6 linked regions of the Homo sapiens genome follow. The protein of the gene in region 4 purifies or fractionates together with the protein of the main gene of each other region. This does not show direct contact. Each region holds a gene or a part of one and is shown on either strand. Other genes may lie near its edges. The genes, in order: DHX36, ALDH1L1, LACTB2, ACP6, RSU1 and RGS10.

Region 1 (3,805 bases), on a different chromosome or scaffold from region 4:
CTAAGTAGGTATCACTGCTCTACCCATGATGTGCACACATTTGAGCAAAGTACTCAATGTTAGTTCTAGAAGTCTCATTTAAAAATAACAATAATAACACCTACCCCAACTAATCTTACATGGTTTTCAGTATTAACTGGGATGTATTTTAAAGGACTTTTAAAAAGCTGATGACAAGAACATTTATTAAACATAAATATATTACATTGTAATTCCCTCCCTTTCCCCCTCCTTCCTTCACAAGTATAAGCAGGAAAGACAGTGAGGATTAATTTTAAAAGAATGTGCTTTTGCAGCTGGTCCAATCTAGCTTCAGCTTGGGAAACCTACTTAACTGCTCTGAGGCTGCTTTCTCATCTGTAAAAATGTGAATGATAATAGCAACTACCTCATAAAGTGTTATAAAGACTAAGGAAGACAAAGTGGCAAATATACTACCTGGAACATTGAAGGTGTTCCATAAGTGGTCACTAGCAGTATTAGCAGCAAACTGCCACCCTAACCTGTGATAAAAGCCACAGAAAAACAACAGAAAGAAGTTTATAAAATTATGCAAATCTGTGGTTTGACTTCAATGATGCCATCTTAATTGTGTGGTGGTAGCAACAAGAAGCTACCTGTCCTCACTATGAGAGATGATGCCACCATTTAAAAATAGACCCAATTGTCTAATCCATGAAACTGGAGGGTAGAATAATATTAAAATAAAATTAACAGCTAAACATTCATTTTGACTACTCTTTACCTAGTACCATATTAATTTTTTTAATTGTTTTTCTAGTACCTTTTCTAATGTAATAACTATACATTTTACTCACCAAAATATTCTGAAAACTTTTCTGCATTCAATGTTGCACTCATCAATATTACTTTCAAGTCAGATCGAAAATTGAGAAGGTCTTTAACAACAGTCATTAAAACATCTGACTGCAGATTTCTTTCATGGATTTCATCAAGTACGATATGACTAACACTGGACAAATACCTAAGGCAGAAGTGTGAAGTACAAAATTTTAAAACCATTTTTCTTTAACAACTAGTAAAATCCAATTTAATAATTACATCTTTTGATAACACTTATATTTCCTTAATTGAAACATACTCACGGGTCTGACTGGAGCCACTGAAGGATGATTCCTGTTGTACAGTATAAGATAGAACCCTGTTTCCTTGGCAACCGACTGTGAATGAAAGACATGAATTAATAAGCCTTGGTTTTCTCTTCTAATAATTAACTACCACAAAGGTTTATATCTTCAATTTTAGAAATGCTTTCAGTTTTAATGAAAATCTTCACACTTAATTTTTTACTTATAAGAACACCTACCACAATGGGGTAATGGGAAATACTTCAAGTTCATTATACATTATCTTTGTTGTCATTGATATAATGTTAATTTCTTTTAAAAGATACGACCATTCACATTCAGACAACAACTGAATTACTTATGGGGCCTAAATATTTGGTTCGTAATTGGAAAGCTCATTTGAAAAGGCAAATGTGTCAGGCATGGTGGCTCAGGCTTGTAATCCCAACACTTTGAGGCCAAGATGGGAGGGTTGCTTGAGCCCAGGAGCTCAAGACCAGCCTGGGCAACACAGCGAGATCCAGGCTCGAAAAGTAAAAAAATTAGCCAGTTGTGGTGGTGTCCGCCGGTAGGCCCAGCTACTTGAGAGGCTGAGGTGGGAGGACTGCTTGAGCACAGGAGTCTTCGGCTGCAGTGAGTTGACTGCACCACTGCACTTCAGCCAGAGCAACAGAGTGAGAACCTATCTCTAAAAAACATTAAGTAAATTAAAACATAAAAAGGCAAATGGAGTCCTAAGCTCCAGAAAAGGACCAACTATGTACTGCACAGTGGAGTTGGATAGGGGGTTAAGATATCAAAATCAATAAAAAGTCAGTCGGAAGTATATGGAGGTGGTACTGAAAGGTCTACACAATCTTTTCAGAGAGAGTAATGGTCTACTAATCTATGTCCAGGAAAAATGTTTATTTTTCTAATCATTCCAAATATAAAAGCATCATTTAAAAAAGGCAATACAAGTCTGATGTGGGGTTAAAAGATAAATTTGTGGCAGCAAGTCATCTACGCTGCAGTTACTTTAAATGGTAATTGTAATAGTAATAACCATCATAAAAATGGGGAAAATATCCTTTCTTTTGAATCTCCAGCTTCAAAGTTTCACTAAAATCTGCCTGTATATAAGAAGTGAACATTTCTTACCTCTGGAGACGAATTTGATATCCAGTACTATTACCACTGCCACAAGATTCTGCCCTTTCTGCAGCTACTCTTTCCGCAACCTTTAATTCAAATAAAACATAAAGAGAATATAATTTCCTTTAGAACAAATATCCTGAATGTCCATGAAAATCTAGGACTGTTGAAAAATTGTTCTTCAGATTTCTAAATGAGTTAAAAAAATAGATATTAAAATCTGAGGTATCTAAAACAGTGTGTGCCTCTCTTAAGAGCTGTTTATTTTTCATTTCCTCTTATAAAGTCTTTTAAGGCCAAGTTCTCTCATCACTAGTTTCAAAGTGCCTTTCTATAGCATCCTCTCATTAATTTATACTTTTCTGGTCTTTTCTAAGAGTTGTAAATCAAGATCTAAACTTGTAGAAGTTATGTGTAATTTGAAAGTAATTACATATTGATACTCTTCCCTTGTGTTTTTGTTTGTGGTAGGGACTGGTGTTGAATTTCTAGTTCTTGGTCATGTTTTGAAAGTTATGACTGCCAAAAATAAGATTTGGAAAGATGAAATGTTATAATCTAATACTGATTTGTACAACTAAAAGTAACCAACAGTTATTCTGTGACAGAACAGTGATAATAAGGTATTAGAAATAGAAAATGGCATAATTTGTAAGAAATAATACTTTACAAGTAAAACTTTCCAATAAGTATATCTAGTATACACTGACAGACCACATTAACCTGTCTACTCAAATTCCAACAGATGGTGGAAAAAAGAAGAGAAAAATTACCTACTTAGCATTTCTTCCTACTATCAGCATATACAGTAACTGCTATATATTAGTGAAAATATTTAAGTCTAGCTACAAAAGTGTGTTATGACAAAAGTGGTTTATTTTTCACCATTCTGTAATTTTATGCAATTTCCTGGAATATAGTCCCCATAAAAGGGTGAAGACTACCTGAAACTGAAACTACTAGAAGAAAACCTAGGGAAAAACTCCTTTGGACATTGGTCTAGGCAAAGAATTTATGACTAAGACCTCAAAAGCACAGGCGACAAAAATAAAAATAGACAAATGGGAATTAACTAAGAAGTTTCTACACAACAAAAGAAATAATCAACAGAGTAAACAGATAATTTCCAGAACGGAAGAAAATATGTGCAAACTATTCATCCAGCAGTGGACAAATACCCAGTATATACAAGAAACTCAAACAACAACAATAAAAGACAAATCATCCCCTTAAAAGGAGGGCAAAAGACAAGAACAGACATTTTTCAAAAGAAGATATACAAATGACTAACAGGTATATGAAAAATGCACAACATCACTAATCATCAGAGAAATGCAAATTAAAACCACAATGAGATATCATCTTACCCCAGTCAAAATGGCTACTATTAAAGAGTCAAAAAATAATAGATCTTGGCCAGGACATGGATAAAAGAGAACTCTTACATACTGTTGGTAGGAATGCAAATTAGCACAGCCTCTATAGAAAACAGTATGGAGATTGCTCAAAGAACTAAAAATAGAGCTATCATTTGATCCAGCAATCCCACTGCTGGGTTTCTACCCAAAGGAAAAGAAATCAAT
Region 2 (2,563 bases), on a different chromosome or scaffold from region 4:
CTCTGTCTCTAGAGAAAACAGAGAGGAAGCATTTCAGTTGTCAGAAGTGCTTCTGCCCTGGCAACCAGGGCCTGTAGGGGCTGCATCCAGGGTTGGGAGTAGGTGGTCCCTTCTTGACTGGAGAGCATGGAGCTGGGCCTTGGTAGGGACCCTGGGAGGGCAGAGGGAGGAAGCCCCAGGAGGTCCCAGTGCCCAGAGCTCCTCCCCTCTCACCTCCTCCTACTCCACGGGTTGTAGCCACCAGGGTCAGTGGCAGAGCTGCCTGGGAGGTTTCACCTGCCAAAGAATCTAGGTGGTTTTAGATTAGCTGTCACCAGAAAAGCTCAAGTCTTTGCTTCGGCCATGGGTTCTGGCACTAGGATTGGATGGACTTGGGATCAGGTCTCAGCTCTGTCACCTGCCAACCGGCGGCCCCATTTCCCTCAACAGCACTCCGTTAAAAGCACGGTGAGACCCACATCAAAGAACAAGCCAGGTGGGAGAGCCATCTGCAGCGTGGTGACACCCATCACACGGGTGCCGTGACCCGGTGCTTATGTCGGGTCATCCGCAGGTGGCTGGTGTGGCCCAGGCCCTGCTGACGGAGAGGCTGGACCATCGGGCACCGTGTCTCCCATGTGCAACGGGCTTTTATCTCTCTTGCAGGGTTCTTCTTTGAGCCAACTGTTTTCACAGACGTGGAAGACCACATGTTCATAGCCAAGGAGGAGTCCTTCGGGCCTGTCATGATCATCTCTCGGTTTGCTGATGGGTAGGGAATCCTGCTGATGTCTCAAGGGCCCTGACTCTCTCCCACGTGTTACTGGGGTCTTCATGTGGGCTTTGGGAGGTAGTCTACGGGCAGTCAGGAGGAGAACTCAGGCAGGGCGCAAGCCGTGGACACCCCGCTTGTGCCGCCTGCTGAGTCTCCACACCCCTGAGAAGAGAGCCCAGTGACCTGGGGCTTTGAGTCCCCCCTGTGAGCAAAGGCAGCTCCCTTCCCTGTCCTTGTCACTTGTCACATGCTCCAGCATGTTTCTCACAGCCCGCTGGGCTCTGTTCTAAGGTCTGTTACCATGCATTAAACCACCCCCCACACTGAGTGGCTTGGAATAATCAGAGATTTATTTTAGTCACGGTCTAGGTTCAATGAGGCAAACCCATCTCTGCTCCATGCAGTGTCTGGCCTCAGCTGGGGTGACAGAGTGGCTATCCTGATGCTGCTGGGGGTCTTGCGGGAGGCTTCCTCCGCGTGGCAGCCTCGGGGTTGCCGAGGCACCTGGTTCCCTTCGGAGGCCAGGTGGAAGCCAAAAGGCTCTTTATAATCTAGCTCTTTAGAATCCCAGAGCATCCCTTCCACCACGGCCTGTTGATGAAGCAAGTCACCCAGACCAGGCTGGGCTGGAAGGGAAAAACTGTACTCCACTCACAGTGGGGCCACTGAGGCCCATGCTGTCACTTCTCAGGCCTGCCCCTTGTCTCCGTAGCACCTTGGAGCAAATTGCAAAATCGTGCCTCGTCCTCACATTTTACTATCCAACTACCAAAAAAACCCCAGAAATTATCATCGTATGTCAGTGGTATTAGAATAAGAGACTTCACTGCCACCTAGCCAATAAATATGGTTGTAGTAAGTCTCCAAATCGCTGATGTCTGGTGAATGCCCAACCTGCGGCGGGCACATGTGGGTCCTTCTGCATGTGAGGACCCAGCGGCCCCTCTCTGGGCCCCTGCTCCCAGTCTGTGGAATAAAGGGCTCACCCGATGATCCAGGAGCCCCTGTGGTGGCCACCTGCCCATGGGCCTCTGCCCTTCCTCCTCGCTCGCAGCCCAACCCAACCCAATCTTGCCCCCGGCGCTGCAGCCCGGCACATTTTCTCCTCGGAAGGTCTTATGCAGCTGGGGTGTGGAGTGGGCCGGGGTGTGGAGTGGGCCAGGCTCTCCTCTGCACCTCCCTCAGGGAGTTCTTCCTGGACTTTCTCTCCAGGGACTTGGATGCCGTGCTGTCTCGGGCCAATGCCACGGAATTTGGCCTGGCTTCTGGTGTCTTCACCAGGGACATCAACAAGGCCCTGTATGTCAGTGACAAGCTCCAGGCAGGCACTGTGTTTGTCAACACGTACAACAAGACCGACGTGGCCGCTCCCTTCGGAGGATTCAAACAGTCTGGATTTGGCAAAGATCTAGGTAACCTACTCCTGCCTGTGGGGTTGCTTTCATTTATTCATTCAACAAACATCTGTTCAAAACCACTTAGGGCCAGGTCCTATCTCAGATGCAGGGACGTAGCCTTGAACATGATGGCTGTCAGGGTTCGCTTCTTACTGGGAGGGAACTTGTGACAAGTCCGTGAGCAAGATGCTTGCAGAGGGGGGTCGTGCTGGGAAGAAGGCAAGAAGAGGGGCCTGGAGGAGACACTCCAGCCAGGAGGCACTGGGGGCCTCTCTGGTGTGGTGGCACCTGTGCTACCCAGACCTGCATAGCAGGGAGGAGTTGGCCATGAAGACCCAGGGGCCCGTGTTTCTGGCTGAGGGTTCAGCAGGTCCTTGGGGGAACCAGCTTTGGTCGTGGAGCTGCAGAGAGG
Region 3 (3,805 bases), on a different chromosome or scaffold from region 4:
CATCAGTTCAGTGAAAGCATATTCATGGCTATATCCCCAGCACCTAGCACAGAGCCTTGTACACAGTTCAGGTAGAACAGTAAACAGTTGCTGAATGAATGAGCATTCTGTACATTTTCTCTTAATTTTCACTATTATGACTCCAGAACTGCTGGATAACTACAGTTTTAGCTGGTCTTCCTTCCTCATCTGATCAGCCCATGGAAGCCAAATGAATTTCACTAAAACACTGCTAGACCTAACTGTGATGCTTAGTACATAGGTACTCAATAAGCATTTGAATCAACAAATGACAGCCAAATTGTCCAGTGTTTTTACTTTCCTCCTCTGCTCAAGAACCTTTAAAAACTGCAATTTTAACCTTTCCTATCAAAATTGTACATACTTTGTGGGCAGACAGTGTGGCTGATAATAGAAAAAGGTAGTCAAGTGGAATAGAATTAAAACTCTGGACTCTGGTTACCTCGATTAGAATCCTGGTGCCATTTACTAGCCATATGACTTTGGACAAGACAGTTCTAAGCTTCAGATTCCTGATACAACCCAATGAAGGTTGTGTAGTACCTACCTCATTGGATTTTATAAGGGCTCAGTGAAATTTAAGTGAAAAAACGTATATGAAAAGCACTTAACAAGTTCTAGCACGTGGAAAACATACCATGTTAGCCATTATGTTTATCACTTCTGCTTTCCTCATAACATCTAGATAACACTGTGCTCATAGTAGGTGTTCAGAAAATATCTAATGATTTTATAAGAGTGACAGCAAATAGAGACCAGTTAATAGCTATCTTAATATTGACATGAAATACCTATAACAAGGAATTTGATTCTACTAATTTTCCATCAATTAAAAATTTTTTTCTCCATTCATGTAGCAAACAGTTATTGTGTGCCTACTATGTGCCAGGCACTTTGCTCTAGTGAATAAATCGTTCATAGACCTATACAGATTCATCCATACTCTTCCCTTGAGCCCTTCATTAGCATAATTTGCATTTGCAAAATGACCTCCTGAGATAGGGATATTATTATCTGTGGCCAAGAAGAACAAAGTCAACTAGCCCATGTAGAGATGATACTATCCAATCATCTATTATAACTATTTACAGACATCACTGATAGAGTAACTGTTTGCTAAGGGAGAAACTGATAACATTTTTTTCAATTTCAAAACTGATAACAGTTTTTTCAAATGTATAGCTGAAGTTTTATTTTTGCCACATAATGATTCTAAGCACTTAACCTAAGCAATCCCCTTCTGCTAGAGAGGCAGTGTTTTGAATGGAGAAGTCACTGGACCTTGTATCTGAACATCTAGTGCTTCCTAGCACTGCCTCTTGCTGGTTATATGACCTGGAGCAAATCACTTAGCCTTTCTGAAGATAAGTTTTCTATAAAATAAATAATTAATAAAGTAATAATACCTCCCTAGAGTTGATATGAGGATCAAAAGAAATAGTAAATATGAAAGCCCCAAATGGTTTAAATTGCTATGTCAATGTCATATGTTATCAGTGTGACTTTTTTTTTCCCTCAAAGCTTGGTGCAAACTCATGTTTTAGGTTTTATAGTATCTAGACACCCCTCCTTTGTTCTGAATAGATTGTATTAATTCCAGAACTTTTTTCTGTTTTCTTTCTTTTGAGAGCCCTTCTTTTATCAATTCCAATTTTGTTAAACCAAGACAGGACCATTAAGAGACCTAAAACTGGAGCCCCAGAAACATGTTCTCCACTACCACAGTCGTATGGTCACTCACACTTTCACCTGCAAACAACCAGCACAGGCATTCTAAAAGATCTGTTTTCTTTGCTACTAGATTTTATCAAATTCATGTATCAACCCTGTTAATTTTGTCATGACTTTTGATCAGTGTGATGTGATCTGGTCATTAAATTACAGAAATTTATATTCATTTTTAGATTAGGAGATATTTCAAAACAGAGTTTCTTGGGAGGACGGGAAGGCAAGGATTAAGAAATAATTTTAAAAGTGGTGGGGCCTTGATGGATTGAAAAAATTTGAGCCTTACCTGAAGCATGGAAGTATTCTTTTTGTGAGGACCAGAAGACCCACAAAAATAGTCCCAGTGACTCTACGTTAGGGGCAGTGAGAATTTGTGGTAAATAACTGCAAATGCATGGAGGCAGCCAAAATCTAGGATGGGTGGGCTAGAGAGTATTATTGGAGGTATCATAGTATTATAGTCTTGTGTATTTTAATTTAGCATAACTAAATATGCACAATGCTAAGTGCAGTACAATGTATTATGGATATAGAAATAAATCCATAAATTCCTTGAACCAAACAGACAAGCTTTCTGCCCTGAAGGGACTCAAATTTGTACGGTGGTGTTGGTTGTGGAAATAGGCAATAAAAAAATAAATATGTAAATACATAATATATTACATGGTAATAATTGCTATGGAAAAAAAGCAAGATAAGATGGCTAGGAATAGCATCAGAACTCACTCTGACCCGAGTCAAACTCATCTCAAATTTGCTCCCTCCAGGGTTTACCTTCTTGATTAATGGCACACCAATCCTCCCACCTAGAAACCTCAGAGTCGCCAACTGTTTCCCTCCTTCCACATCTCGTTGTTTAACAAATATCCTGGTGGTTGGTTGATTGTACCTTCTAAATGTTCTTAAAGCCATCTCTTCCTTACATTTCCACTACCAACAGAACCCTATAATAAATGCCCTCTTGGTCCAGTGTAACCATCTGGTCTCCTGTCTCCGGATAGGACAGTTCAACACTGTGTTTCTGAAGGACATCTACTGTGCTACAGAACATAGGGTGCAGATAGAAGCCAATGGGCTATGAGGCCATTACCCTCCTCCCTTATGAGAGGCCAGTTTGTTTTTGTTGGCTCTGGGTCTCAGGGAGTAGGGTTAGGGAAACAAACCAATAAAAAATAACCATCCAGTTACTCACTGTTTAATTTTAATGCTTTGCAAAATGCTTTCTATGGTATGTTACTTTTATTGTTTATTTCCAGTCATATGCAGTTCCCCTTCTCACCAACAGTTGAATGTAAGCAGGGTTGTTGTGTCCTGCTTACTGCAAGAAACAAATTTGTAGCACATATTAGGTAATCCATAAACAGTTATTGATCAATTAATGAATAACTCAGACTTTTCATCAAGGCTAATCTGTCAGCCAGCCTGAATTATTGAGGTGTTACTGTGAAACAGTATGAGTGAAGAAGTTTGTGAATTGGATCTTGAGCTGGGCATGGTGGCTCAACGCCTGTAATCCCAGCACTTTGGGAGGCTGAGGTGGGAGGATTGCTTGACCCCAGGAGTTAAGAGACCAGCCTGGGCAATATGACGAAACACCATCTCTACAAAAAATACAAAAATGAGCCGGGCATGGTGGCACATACCTGTAGTCCCAGCTACTCAGGAAGTAGATGTGGGAGAATCGCTTGTGCCCAGGAGGTCAAGGCTGCAATGAGCTGAGATCGCAACACTGCACTCCAGCCTGGGTGACAGAGCAAGACCCTGTCTCAAAAAAAAAAGAATTGGATCTTGAGGAACATGTCACCCCCATGTCTTTAGTTCAGCAAAACTTCACAGAGAAAGGCCACCTCATAAAATCGTGAGGAAGGGCAAACAAAATATAAGGAAGATTCAGAACCACAAGCAAAAAATACAGCTAATGGGGTTGTCTAAGTAAAGAAAGAAAATAGCTCAGATGTTTTTCCCATGCTTCACTAAAGCCTTCATTTTCATGTGTCAGGGTGCTAATATAAAACTTCAGTGATAAGTTGTATATCTAGTGCCAAAGACTAGTTTC
Region 4 (3,805 bases):
ATATTAAAAAAATCTGAGATGCCCTTCATAAAGAAAGCTGGTTAATCTTTAAATCTGTTTTCCTTAAGCTTATTTAGCCATAGGATCTTTTTTTCTGTAATAAATACATAAAGAAGACTAACAATGGGAAAGGTTTCTCTAGATTTAAAAGTTGGACATCCAAAGTTATATAGGATCCTCCCCACTCTTGTGAAAATAAAATGACTGTGTACCCTAAAGGCAGAAATGCACCTTGCTTTTATGTGTAAAATAGGTTTAAGGTTAGAAGGCAAGAGTTCATATCATGTATTTGTATGGCGTATTTTTTAGACTTCATTTTGGGAAAATGAAGATCAAGTAGGAATTTATGAATTCCTTGCTTTGTATTTTATTCATCTTTTTTTTTTAAGTTAAAAAATACAGGCCAGGCATGGCGGCTCATGCCTATAATCCCAGCACTTTGGGAGGCTGAGGTGGGAGGATCACAAGGTCAGGAGTTCGAGACCAGCCTGGCCAATATGGAGAAATCCTGTCTCTACTAAAAATACAAAATTTAGCCGGGTGTGGTGGTGCATGTCTGTAGTCCCAGCCACTCAGGAGGCTGAGGCAGAATACTTGCTTGAACCTGGGAGGCAGGGGTTGCAGTGAGCCGAGATCACGCCACTGCATTCCAACCTGGGTGACAGGGCAAGACTCCATCTCAAAAAAAAAAACCAGTAAAACAGGCCGGGCGCGGTGGCTCACACCTGTAATCCCAGCAATTTGGGAGGCCGAGAAGGGTGGATCACGAGGTCAGGAGATTGAGACCATCCTGGCTAACACGGTGAAACCCCGTCTCTACTAAAAATACAAAAAAATTAGCCGGGCGTGGTGGCGGGCACCTGTAGTCCCAGCTACTCAGGAGGCTGAGACAGGAAAATGGCGTGAACCCAGGAGGTGGAGCTTGCAGTGAGCCGAGATCGTGCCACTGCACTCCAGCCTGGGCGACAGAGCGGGACTCCGTCTCAAAAAAACCAAAAAAACAACAAAAATGCTTTTCATTTTTGAGTGGATGGGGAGTCATCAGAAAGGGAAGAAACCCTTTCTTTTTTTTTTTTCCTGGCCTTCAGGTATCTAGTAATAGCTTTGGAAGAGCTTTAGAGACATAGCTTCTTGACCTGTTAACAGACATAGCTGTTCTTGAGCCTGTCTTCTCTTCCCCAGGAGAAGATGGGCTCCTGCAGGTTCCATGGAAGCTGATCAGCTGCCAGAATCAGTAGGTAAGAAGCATTTTTTTCTAAAACTACATGTGGCCCTTTCAGGCACACAACCTCCCAAGCTGCCCCATGCTGAAGAGATTTGCAAGGATGATCGAACAGAGAGCTGTGGACACATCCTTGTACATACTGCCCAAGGAAGACAGGTGAGGGGCTCTCACTGCTGGCATGAAGTCACGCTTGGTCAGACATCCAAGTGTATGGGGAAGAGGAGTTCATCAGGCCCACTCACACCTGACAGCTGATGTCTCCTCGTGTAAGGAGGCTGAACCCCATTCTGCCCACCTACCAGTAGGCCCTAGGTCCTCGCACTTCTACAGCTGGGACTGGTGGCCTAGTGCTTCTGTTCCCTGTTATGCAGAACCAGGAGCCACCACCCTCATGACTTTATCACTTGCCTTTTCCTTTTGCTTTAAGGTTTAAAGGATTTGGGTGGGGGGAGCTGAAGAAAGAATATTCATTTCTGTCTTTAGTCATCATGTTACAATTTGCAAACCATTTTCACATTCTCACTGTGAGGTGAGAGAGATACCTTTCTCCCTGGCTTTATAGATAAAGAAACTGAGGCTGGGAGATATTGCCTACCTGGTCTAGGCCCAGCTAGCAAGTGATGGAGCCAGAACTTGGACCCAGATCCACTGACTGCCTATTCTGTGTTTTCGCTATATTACTAGCAGTTAGGGTTCTGTTTCCTGACTACCAGAATGGAAAGTTTTTCTCTCACCAAATTTCAGAAGACACCTTTTTTTCTGATTTGTTGAGAGCATTCAACTTGCACTAAAAATAGGTGACTTGATAGAGGAGGGGAGGTAGGAAGTAGCCCTGGGAAAGATGAGTAGGGGGGAAAGGCATCTAACAGTTCAAGAATTTGCACGGTTGGGTGCCCAAGGATAAGAGCCCCTGACTGCATTCCTTCCACTCAGGGTCAGTGTGTCCACTTCTGTGCAAGCCTAGGGCATCTAGAAGGTTCCTGCCAAGCCACACAGCTTGCTGCCACTCCCTGGGACTTGCCAGCTTCCCTTTTCTGCTTGTGAAGGGGTGCCACCATACCTAAATTGTTACTTACTTCCCTCTCCTTTATCAACACACACACACATATTTAGTAAATATTTTAAGCTGTCAGGATCATGCAATTTCTGTTACAACTACTCATCTCTGCCCTTGTAACATGAAGCAACCAAAGACAATATGCAAACAAATAGACATGGCTGTGTGCCAGTAAAATTTGTTTACCAAAACTGGTCAGATTTGGCCTATGGTATAGTTTGCTTTATTCTGGTGTAAATCATTTTAAACAGGACCTTGTCTATTCCATTCCAATTAGCCCTGGTTTTGTAAAACTAACATTTCTTCAAGGACAAATGGTTACAACCTCACAAGGCCATCCAACTTGGCTTTGCCTGTATACATTCTTCTGAAAAGTATGTGTTGCATACAGTGTTGGTTGCCTGCTCTTCATCCATTGCTGCAACATTCCTTGACTTATAAAGATGGTCATTTACCCAATCACCACAAATAAGGATTTGTCTAAGCCAATCATGGCAACCTTGTTTTCATTTGTCAGTGGCTGGGTTCTGGGAATTCTAGGAGGGGTGTTTTTTTCTCTTTGATAAAAAGTGAGAAGCACAAAAACAAGGAGAAGACCAGTCTCTGAAGTCTCCATGGAAGCTGATCAGCTGCTAGGATGAGTAGATGAGAAACATTTCTTTCTTCTATAGTAAGTGGACTTTGTTCACTACTGTGAGTGAACATGCTTTAAGCTGCAGTAGTCACCTGTGGCCATGATGTGACAGGCCTGAGAATGAAAGTGGTGGAGCCACACAGCCAAGCCTGGGAGCACGACCACTGAACTTCTTCTGTAAAATAAATAAGACATAAATAAGAAATGTCTTTATGGCCCAAACTCCAAAAGAAGGAAGGCTGGCACATAGGAAACAAAATTAAGGATGTTCTTGTTCCTTCTGATTATTTTTCTAAGGGCCTTCTAGAATTCCTGGAAATTATTACCCCTTCTTCTTCCCAGCTTGTCAGCTTTGTTCTTTGATTCCCCAAGGCCTAGTTGGTCACGGCTTATCCAGGTTACCACTCTCCTGCTCCCTCAGCCCCTCCCATCTCAGTTGTGTTCACAACAGGTCTGTGTGCTGGTGCCTGTGTTGTTGGGAGTCTTCATTCACAGAGGACCCCAAGACCGGACTCGGTGCCATTTCTCTCCTTCTGGCCCGTTGCTGGCCCTTATGCATTACTTGCCTTTTTCTCAGCTCTGTCTGGACTCATGAGGTCCTGGGGGCAGAATCAGTCTGTGTCCCCTGAATGCTGAGTGCCCTCTAGGTGCTTAAATGTTGTTCACTTTTCACAGGGAAAGTCTTCAGATGGCAGTAGGCCCATTCCTCCACATCCTAGAGAGCAACCTGCTGAAAGCCATGGACTCTGCCACTGCCCCCGACAAGATCAGGTACCTGGCACAGCAACTCTGCTTTGTGCAGCTAAGGGCCGTGGGAACTTCTGGCTGTAGGGAGGGAACCCAAATCTTAGTGAGGCAAGAACCAGGCTGTCAGTGACCGAAGGTAGAT
Region 5 (3,805 bases), on a different chromosome or scaffold from region 4:
ACTTTGGGGTGAATTGTGGGGTGATTCACCATGAGGAGGGTGAATCACTTGAGGCCAGGAGTTCAAGACCAGCCTTTCCAACATGGTGAAACCCCATTTCTACTCAAAATACAAAAATTAGCCGAGTGTGGTGGTGGGTGCCTGTAATCCCAGCTACTTGGGAGGCTGAGGCAGGAGAATCGCTTGAACCTGAGAGGTGGAGGTTGCAGTGAGTTGAGATAGATGGCGCCACTGCACTCCAGCCTGGGTGACATAGTGAAACTGTGTTTCAAACAAAAAAAAAAAAAAAAAAAAAAAAAAGAAGCAGCAGCTTCAGTAAGCACCGGAGAGCCATTGCCTCCTTTCCACGGGGACCAGCTGGTTCCATAACAGCTGCTTTTAGGGGCATCTACATGATGCTCTGCTGGGAGGTCACAAGGTACATGAGCTATGCTAGGGCAGGGGCCTGCTGTGAGTTCTCTTCTGTCCTCCTTGGGAAGGAGAAGAAGGTTGGTTACTTTGTGTATTTCAGTTTTTTTGTCCTTCTGTCATTCTCCTGTAGCAGCTGTCGTCACCCCTTTGTCAAACATACTAGCCCAAAATATGGACTGTTAGCTGATAAGACAATAAGTCAAACTCTTAATCATTAAAAAAAAAAAAAAAACTGCACAAAAATGCCGCTATTGTGTTTCACCAGATTAACACAAACTGATTTTCAAAATTAAGGGCCTCCTTTATATGAATAGATCTGTATTATATTAAGTATATCCTCATACAATTAGAACCCAACTCAACTCTTTGTGTGAAGCAGCCATTTCATAATTAGGGGATTTTTAGTATCCTATCTGAAAAATATTATGCGAATTAGCAGGTATTTGGCTACTTTTTAAAAACGTTTTACATGTGGCAGCCTTCAGGGGAGGCAGTTTATTCATGATACTCATAGTTTTTTTAAAAAAGCAAATTTCACATTCATTGCCTTAGTTTTTGATCTTCTAGTCTAAAACTTATTATAGTTCCTAATTTTCACTTCTTTGTCTCTGTTGTTTAAGCCGCATACTTCCCCTTTATTAAAAAGAATCCTTACTTATATATTTATCAGTGTCTGTGTGTTGCGGATGTGTATTTGTCTATCTTTAAACTACCATGAAAACATACTTTTGGTTTTGGCACTTAAAACGCCTATGAACCTCCTCCTCCTTCCCCCACCCCAACCGCTTTTTTCTAACCAGTTAACCCATTACCTAAATGAGAGGAATAAAGAACTAAAAAACTTACCGGAATGTTTTCTTTTCATTCATGTCTATGATCGGCGTTCACAGTGACCTTCCTCAGAGCACGTCCTCAAGTTCTTCTGAGTCTAGGGCAGAGAGGATGGATGATCTGATTTATAGGCTCTAATGGACTCCAAGAGGAGACATGGATACTTGAAAGAAAACAATGAATTCAGTGTGTCAACAGAATTAAAATACTTGGAGATGACTTAGCTTCATGAAGATGGGAACTTGTTCCATTAAGCAGGAGGGGTGTGGCTGGTAGGATGGTGAGGTATAGTTCTTCAGAGATTGCTCTTTGGAGTAACATTCTGGGCATTAATCACGGCCCCTTCATCATGTCTCAGGTGGAAGCTGCTGTCTCTTCATCTTTCGTGCCTTCCACAGGGGAACTTGTTGGCTGATGTCACTGAGTTGCCGGTTAACATGAAATTATGAGCTTGGTTGGGTCGTTGAAGCTTACATCCTACATGCTCCACTGTGTTTTTAAACTGTCGCTGAGTTATACAATTACCTGTTAACTCTTTATTTGATGGTGGTTGTCTCTTCGACCTCTTTTATTTCTTTGAAGCAGAATTATGATGGAATACTCATCACTTAAGTTTCCAGAAGGTAGATTTTTTTCCCCCAGGAGAGGCAGTCAAGTTGAAGTCAGCACCCTTGACAAGATTCTTTGTGAAAGGGGGTAACTCACACTTTGCACATTTCCATCAAGGAACGTGGATACCAACTGCAAGCCATTTTAAAAGCTGACAAGTTAACTCTTGTCAACAAGTTAACAAAAGAGGTTTGACAAATGTTAGGCTGGAAATGCTTCCCTTGAAAGAGGTATTTGGCAAACAGGCGTCATCATGAAAACTGCAATTTGCCAAGCATGGCAGTCCTAAAGCCTCATTTCCAGCATGGCATCACTCACAGGATGCTTCCTCGTCATTCTGCCTGTCTTTTTCACCTTTCTTTTCTCTCTCCGGAAAAGTTCCCCACTCATTTGTGTTTTGTGTGTTCCGTTTTTTTAACCTTAAATGAAAGACCAGCCATACTATTATTCATATTAGTTAACAAAAACATTTTAACAAAGCAGTCTTTGGTGAATGGTGGGAAACCATGAGATAAAAGCTGAGAATTCCTCTTTATTAGAAATCTAGCCAAATAAATCATCCTGTTTGATTTATAAGGAAACATTCTTTTGGCTGTTGGTTATTGTTTTTCACATTGTTTTACTTGTGGAATTAAAGCTAATTAATGTTTTATTTTTCTTCTGCATGCTGTGCAAACCTGTTACAAGCTGTAATGGACGTACATGGGCTTTATTAAACAACTACTATATCCTCTAGTGACTGCTGAGTCAGTGGCCTAGAAATTCTTTAAATAACTTCACTGATACAACCAGTCCACCACAAGGCTAGGGCATTTCAAACCTAATAGGTGAGCCCATTCATTTTAAAACAGCCCTTCACTGTAGGAAATTATCTCTAAGAAAAACTTAATAAACATCTGATGAAGTATAAATGGGTGCACAGAGCTAGCAGGTGATTTTATAAATATCTTCACAAAGATGGAGGAGAGGGTTAAATTTCCAGGATCTTTCTAGTGGTTAGTAAATTGAACATAGTGACAATCAGTATGTAGAACAATGTAGACTCTTCTTTTTCATTGCTGTATCTGAAAATAGCTCAAATTAAGCCACAGAAAAACAATTTCTGTGTAGTAGACATGAAAATGAAGAACTGTTTTTCTTTAAAGCTTTTTTTTTTTTTCCTTAGGGACACAGTATCACTTTGTCACCCAGGCTGCAGTGCAGGGGCACCATGATAGCTCACTGCAGCCTTGATCTCCAGGGCTCAAGCAATCCCCCTGCCTCAGCTTCCCTAGTACCTGGGACTACAGGCACACACCACAACGCCTGGCTAGTTTTCTATTTTATTTTTTTGTGGAGACTGGGGGTCTTGCTATGTTGCCCAAGCTACTCTCAAACCCCTGGCCTCAAGAGATTTTCCTGCCTCAGCCTTTCAAAGCGCTGAGATTACAGGCACGCACCACGGCACCTGGCTTTTAACATAAAGGTAGTTTTTACATTTTACAAGTTGACTATGTATTCTCTTCCTGGTGATATATATTTTCTTCATAAATGGTACATATTTGTATTATTTTTTCTTTTTTTGAGACGGAGTCTCGCTCTGTCGCCGAAGCTGGACTGCAGTGGCGTGATCTGGGCTCACTGCAAGCTCCGCCTTCCGGGTTCACGCCATTCTCCTGCCTCAGCCTCCCGAGTGGCTGGGACTGCAGGCGCTCGCTACCACATCTGGCTGATTTTTTGTATTTTTTTTAGTAGAGACAGGGTTTCGCCTTGTTGGCCAGGATGGTCTTGATCTCCTGACCTCGTGACCCGTCCGCCTCGGCCTCCCAAAGTGCTGGGATTACAGGCCTGAGCCACCACTACTGGCCTATATTTTCTTTTTTAAAGTTGAAAATGCATTATCACATTTTATCCATAATATGTGATTCAAAGTTTTGGCATCTGTGGACCTATTTGCAAGAAAATATGTTGCATT
Region 6 (3,805 bases), on a different chromosome or scaffold from region 4:
TCTTGGCTCACTGCAACCTCCGCCTCCCAGGTTCAAATGATTCCCCTGCCTCAGCCTCCCAAGTAGCTGGGACTACAGGCACCCACCACCACACCCAGCTACTTTTTTTTATTTTTAGTACAGACGGGGTTTCACCATGTTGGCCAAGCTGGTCTTGAACTCCTGACCTCAAGTGATCCACCCGCCTCAGCCCCCTAAAGTGCTAGGATTACAGGCGTGAGCCACCGTGCCCGGCCAGAAACTGGGTTTTGAACCTGGCCCCATCTGAAGTGACATTCCATGGTTCTTCCTTGACTCCAGGAAGGGATCACATGCCATAGAATGAAGCATGCTTTAATTGTTCCCTCCTCCTACAGGCAAGTGGCCAAAGTGTGTTATTTGGAGATTCCCTGTTCCTCCCAGGAGACTTCTCAGTGTCGTGAGTCAGAGAGTACAGTGGAAGATGTGCAGATGCAAAGAGTTTTCATCCATTTTCTCTGTGCACCAAAATGTAAGAGGGTTGCCAAAAACCTCAGGCATCAGGATAATGATATTTATTTATTTATTTATTTATTTATTTATTATCATTATTTTTAGATGGAATCTTGCTCTGTCGCCCAGGCTGGAGTGCAGTGGTGTGATCTTGGCTCACTGCAACCTCCGCTTCCTGGGTTCAAGCGTTTCTCCTGCCTCAGCCTCTCAAGGAGCTGGGATTACAGGTGCATGCCACCACACCCAACTAATTTTTATATTTTTAGTAGAGATGAGGTTTCACTCCTGACCTCTGGTGATCTGCCTGCCTTGGCCTCCCAAAGTGCTGGGATTACAAGTGTGAGCCACTGCACCCAGCCTATAAATGATATTTAATGCAGTGTTTTAAAAGATCAAAATTAATGCAGAAACATCCGTAATGAACAAATATCCGAAGTTTAAATAAAGTCAGGAAAAATAACAGTGTGATGCTGAGCCATATTGGACTCTGAAGCAAAAGGAAAAATCAGCATAACCGATCCTGTCTTTATTTAAAATTTGGGTATTTTGTTCATCATGGATTTTTTAGCATAAATTTTGATTTTTTGAAAAAGTATTGCCTGAGGAACTGGGCGCGGTGGCTCATGCATGTAATCCCAGCACTTTGGGAGGCCGAGGTGGGTGGATCACCTGAGGTCAAGAGTTCGAGACCAGCCTGGCCAACATGGTAAAACCCCGTCTCTATTAAGAATACAAAAATTAGCTGGGTGCGGTGGGAATCACCTATAATCTCAGCTACTTGGGAGGCTGAGGCAGGAGAATCGCTTGAATCTAGGAGGCAGAGGTTGCAGTGAGCCGAGACTGTGCTACTGCACTCCAGACTGGGAAACAGAGTGACTCTGTCAAAAACAAACAAACAAACAAAAAGAGCTATTGCCTGAAATGACATTTATCTTGATGCCTGGGTATTCTGGCAACCCTCTGACATTTTGCGCCATCACGTGGGTCCCGTCCTGCAATGAGTTTTTTAATCTCTGTGCCAGATAATGAGCTAGGTGCTGGAGATACAAGATGAGGACACATAGGAGCCTTCAGACTAGTGGGAGTCAGTCATGTAAATAGTCACAACACAGCACCATAATTCTAAGTCTGTGCACAAAGCGCCATGGGGAAGCAGTTGCTGTTGAATCAAGGTTCTCTTGGAGGAGGGTTTGAGTGTGACTTGAGGGCTGCCTCTGAATTGGCCAGTGGACACAAGAGTAGGGGAAGGATTTGGTGGGAAACAGCAGGTCCCTTCATCCCTCCGAGCCTCAGTTTACCCCCATCTGTAAAATGGAGGAAATAGTAGTGCCTGCCTTACAGGGTTGTGTGACAAGAATGAGTCCATCATGTTAAGCACCTAGAACAGAGCCTGACGCATAAGTCGGTGTATGTCAGCCGTGATGGTGACGGCAGTGCTGACCATTGCATGCAGATTTCTTAAAATGACAGTGTCTGTTGGCCACATATGCAGTCTGAACTTTGCTTTGCAGACATCCACGACAGCGATGGCAGTTCCAGCAGCAGCCACCAGAGCCTCAAGAGCACAGCCAAATGGGCGGCATCCCTGGAGAATCTGCTGGAAGACCCAGAAGGCGTGAAAAGATTTAGGGTTTGTCTTTTTCATTGTTAATCGGGATGGATGCAGTGTGTGCAGAAGTTCAGATGCACACAGGGGAGAAATAGGCCAGTTCAACATTGTCTGTCAGCGTAGCACTCTCTATGCCAGCTTGAGAGTTCAGTACTGTCTATCCCAGCTTGAGGGTGAGACTTTCTCATCTGTCATGACTGTGTTGGCAACGCTGTCACAGATGGGTAGCCTGTTTCTGGTTTTTGTGTAGTGAGGTGGGAGGGGTACAGGGTGGGAGGAGAGAGAAGATACCGTGCCTATTGGTGGAGTCTGTATGAGGAATTCCCAGCTCTGGGTCTCTCTGACGTGAAGGCTTGTTCTCTCGTGCTTGGGGGATTCTCAGAATGCATTGTTGACAGAGTAAGAGAGGCTGGCAATGAGAACTTGGCGAAGGGACCTCCGAGAGCAGGGCTGATGGATGGGGAACTGTTGATCCCATCTAGAAATAGCTTTTCTGACCAGCAGAAGCCCCCGGTGCCAGATGGAGGACCATATGTGAATTTCAAGAATGAGTCCTGGTTACTTCTGTCTTTAAGTCTTGGGTCAGGAATAGGATGAGTCCTCATGCAGTTGGTGCCTGTTGGAGCTCCCAGGGAGGGAGTGGCAGGTGGTACTAGGCTTCTAGTTCCTGGTCGCCAGGCCACTGTGAGCAGTGTTTGCAACTCAGGAGGTCTCTGCACAGCAGAGTAGCTGGCTGTGCCATGGACTGCCCAAGATCGGCCATAAGAAAACACACATACCTCCAACTTAAAATAGTTTGTATCATGGTGTCTTTAGACATACTTAATGTGCTTTCTTTTCTTTTGTTTAAAAAACAGCCTGATTTTAGAGGAATGTACTTTGTTTAAACACTGTCTGGAAGGAACCAATATATCTTCCACTTTAATTTACTTTTTGGTAATTTATTGTCAGCTTAGAAATATGAGTACATTCCTGCTTCATTTGTACTCTTCTTTACAATGTCAAAACCATTAAGGTCAAATGCATATGAAATTATAGCTTTAACATTAAACATACTCATTTGTTTTTCAGAGTGGGGTTTTCGAAGAGTAACTGAACCATGCTCCTCTGTTGAATTTTGCCAAATCAGTCTTTGAAGGGAAATGCCATTTGTTTTATTTTTTTTTTAAAGTAGAATACTGTGTGACTCTTTTTCTTTGTATCCACAGGAATTTTTAAAAAAGGAATTCAGTGAAGAAAATGTTTTGTTTTGGCTAGCATGTGAAGATTTTAAGAAAATGCAAGATAAGACGCAGGTATTTCCTCCACTCTGATAATTTTTTTCCCTTATAAAGTTACAACTGCCTTTCCAATAGATTCTGAAGTTGCCTAAAGAAACCTGATTCATATTAGTTTTGGGGGAAGATTTAAGCTTCAGATTAGGTATCTTGTGTTGATCAAATATTAATCATTTTTAAAAGGGTGAGTTAATCCATTTTTAAATGGAGCTGTTCAAATGGACCAATATTTAAAATAAAAATAACAATTTATGTCACTTAGAGTTCCTCATTGCATAGAATTTTTTTCTTCATGAATAAGTTATGAGGATGTTTTCCCCACATTTTGACATGTTAGCATTTTGGACGTGGTAAAACGATACGCAGATGTGTAATGATAAAAGCACAAGGTGCATCAGAGGGATTGTCAATTATTCAGTGTATCGTACTGAGCGTCCCATAGTTGGCG

The links.
Region 1: the proteins of ACP6 (region 4) and DHX36 purify together in Homo sapiens (affinity purification with mass spectrometry, with the first as the bait; one large-scale study listed by BioGRID). This does not show direct contact.
Region 2: the proteins of ACP6 (region 4) and ALDH1L1 purify together in Homo sapiens (co-immunoprecipitation; one large-scale study listed by IntAct). This does not show direct contact.
Region 3: the proteins of ACP6 (region 4) and LACTB2 purify together in Homo sapiens (co-immunoprecipitation; one large-scale study listed by IntAct). This does not show direct contact.
Region 5: the proteins of ACP6 (region 4) and RSU1 purify together in Homo sapiens (affinity purification with mass spectrometry, with the first as the bait; one large-scale study listed by BioGRID). This does not show direct contact.
Region 6: the proteins of ACP6 (region 4) and RGS10 purify together in Homo sapiens (affinity purification with mass spectrometry, with the first as the bait; one large-scale study listed by BioGRID). This does not show direct contact.

The regions. Positions count from the first base shown.
Region 1 is NC_000003.12:154,303,988-154,307,792, forward strand, and holds part of DHX36 (ATP-dependent DNA/RNA helicase DHX36), read right to left. Parts: intron 2,309-3,805; coding exon 2,229-2,308; intron 1,182-2,228; coding exon 1,107-1,181; intron 986-1,106; coding exon 819-985; intron 1-818.
Region 2 is NC_000003.12:126,105,329-126,107,891, reverse strand, and holds part of ALDH1L1 (cytosolic 10-formyltetrahydrofolate dehydrogenase), read left to right. Parts: exon of another isoform or gene 1-645; coding exon 646-751; exon of another isoform or gene 752-1,966; coding exon 1,967-2,166; exon of another isoform or gene 2,167-2,359; intron 2,360-2,563. UniProt on the Homo sapiens protein: Cytosolic 10-formyltetrahydrofolate dehydrogenase that catalyzes the NADP(+)-dependent conversion of 10-formyltetrahydrofolate to tetrahydrofolate and carbon dioxide.
Region 3 is NC_000008.11:70,662,418-70,666,222, reverse strand, and holds part of LACTB2 (endoribonuclease LACTB2), read left to right. Parts: intron 1-2,943; exon of another isoform or gene 2,944-3,805.
Region 4 is NC_000001.11:147,650,025-147,653,829, reverse strand, and holds part of ACP6 (lysophosphatidic acid phosphatase type 6), read left to right. Parts: intron 1-1,182; exon of another isoform or gene 1,183-1,238; intron 1,239-1,280; coding exon 1,281-1,381; intron 1,382-3,591; coding exon 3,592-3,687; intron 3,688-3,805. UniProt on the Homo sapiens protein: Hydrolyzes lysophosphatidic acid (LPA) containing a medium length fatty acid chain to the corresponding monoacylglycerol.
Region 5 is NC_000010.11:16,688,218-16,692,022, reverse strand, and holds part of RSU1 (ras suppressor protein 1), read left to right. Parts: intron 1-3,805. UniProt on the Homo sapiens protein: Potentially plays a role in the Ras signal transduction pathway. Capable of suppressing v-Ras transformation in vitro.
Region 6 is NC_000010.11:119,525,602-119,529,406, reverse strand, and holds part of RGS10 (regulator of G-protein signaling 10), read left to right. Parts: intron 1-1,982; coding exon 1,983-2,101; intron 2,102-3,288; coding exon 3,289-3,375; intron 3,376-3,805. UniProt on the Homo sapiens protein: Regulates G protein-coupled receptor signaling cascades, including signaling downstream of the muscarinic acetylcholine receptor CHRM2.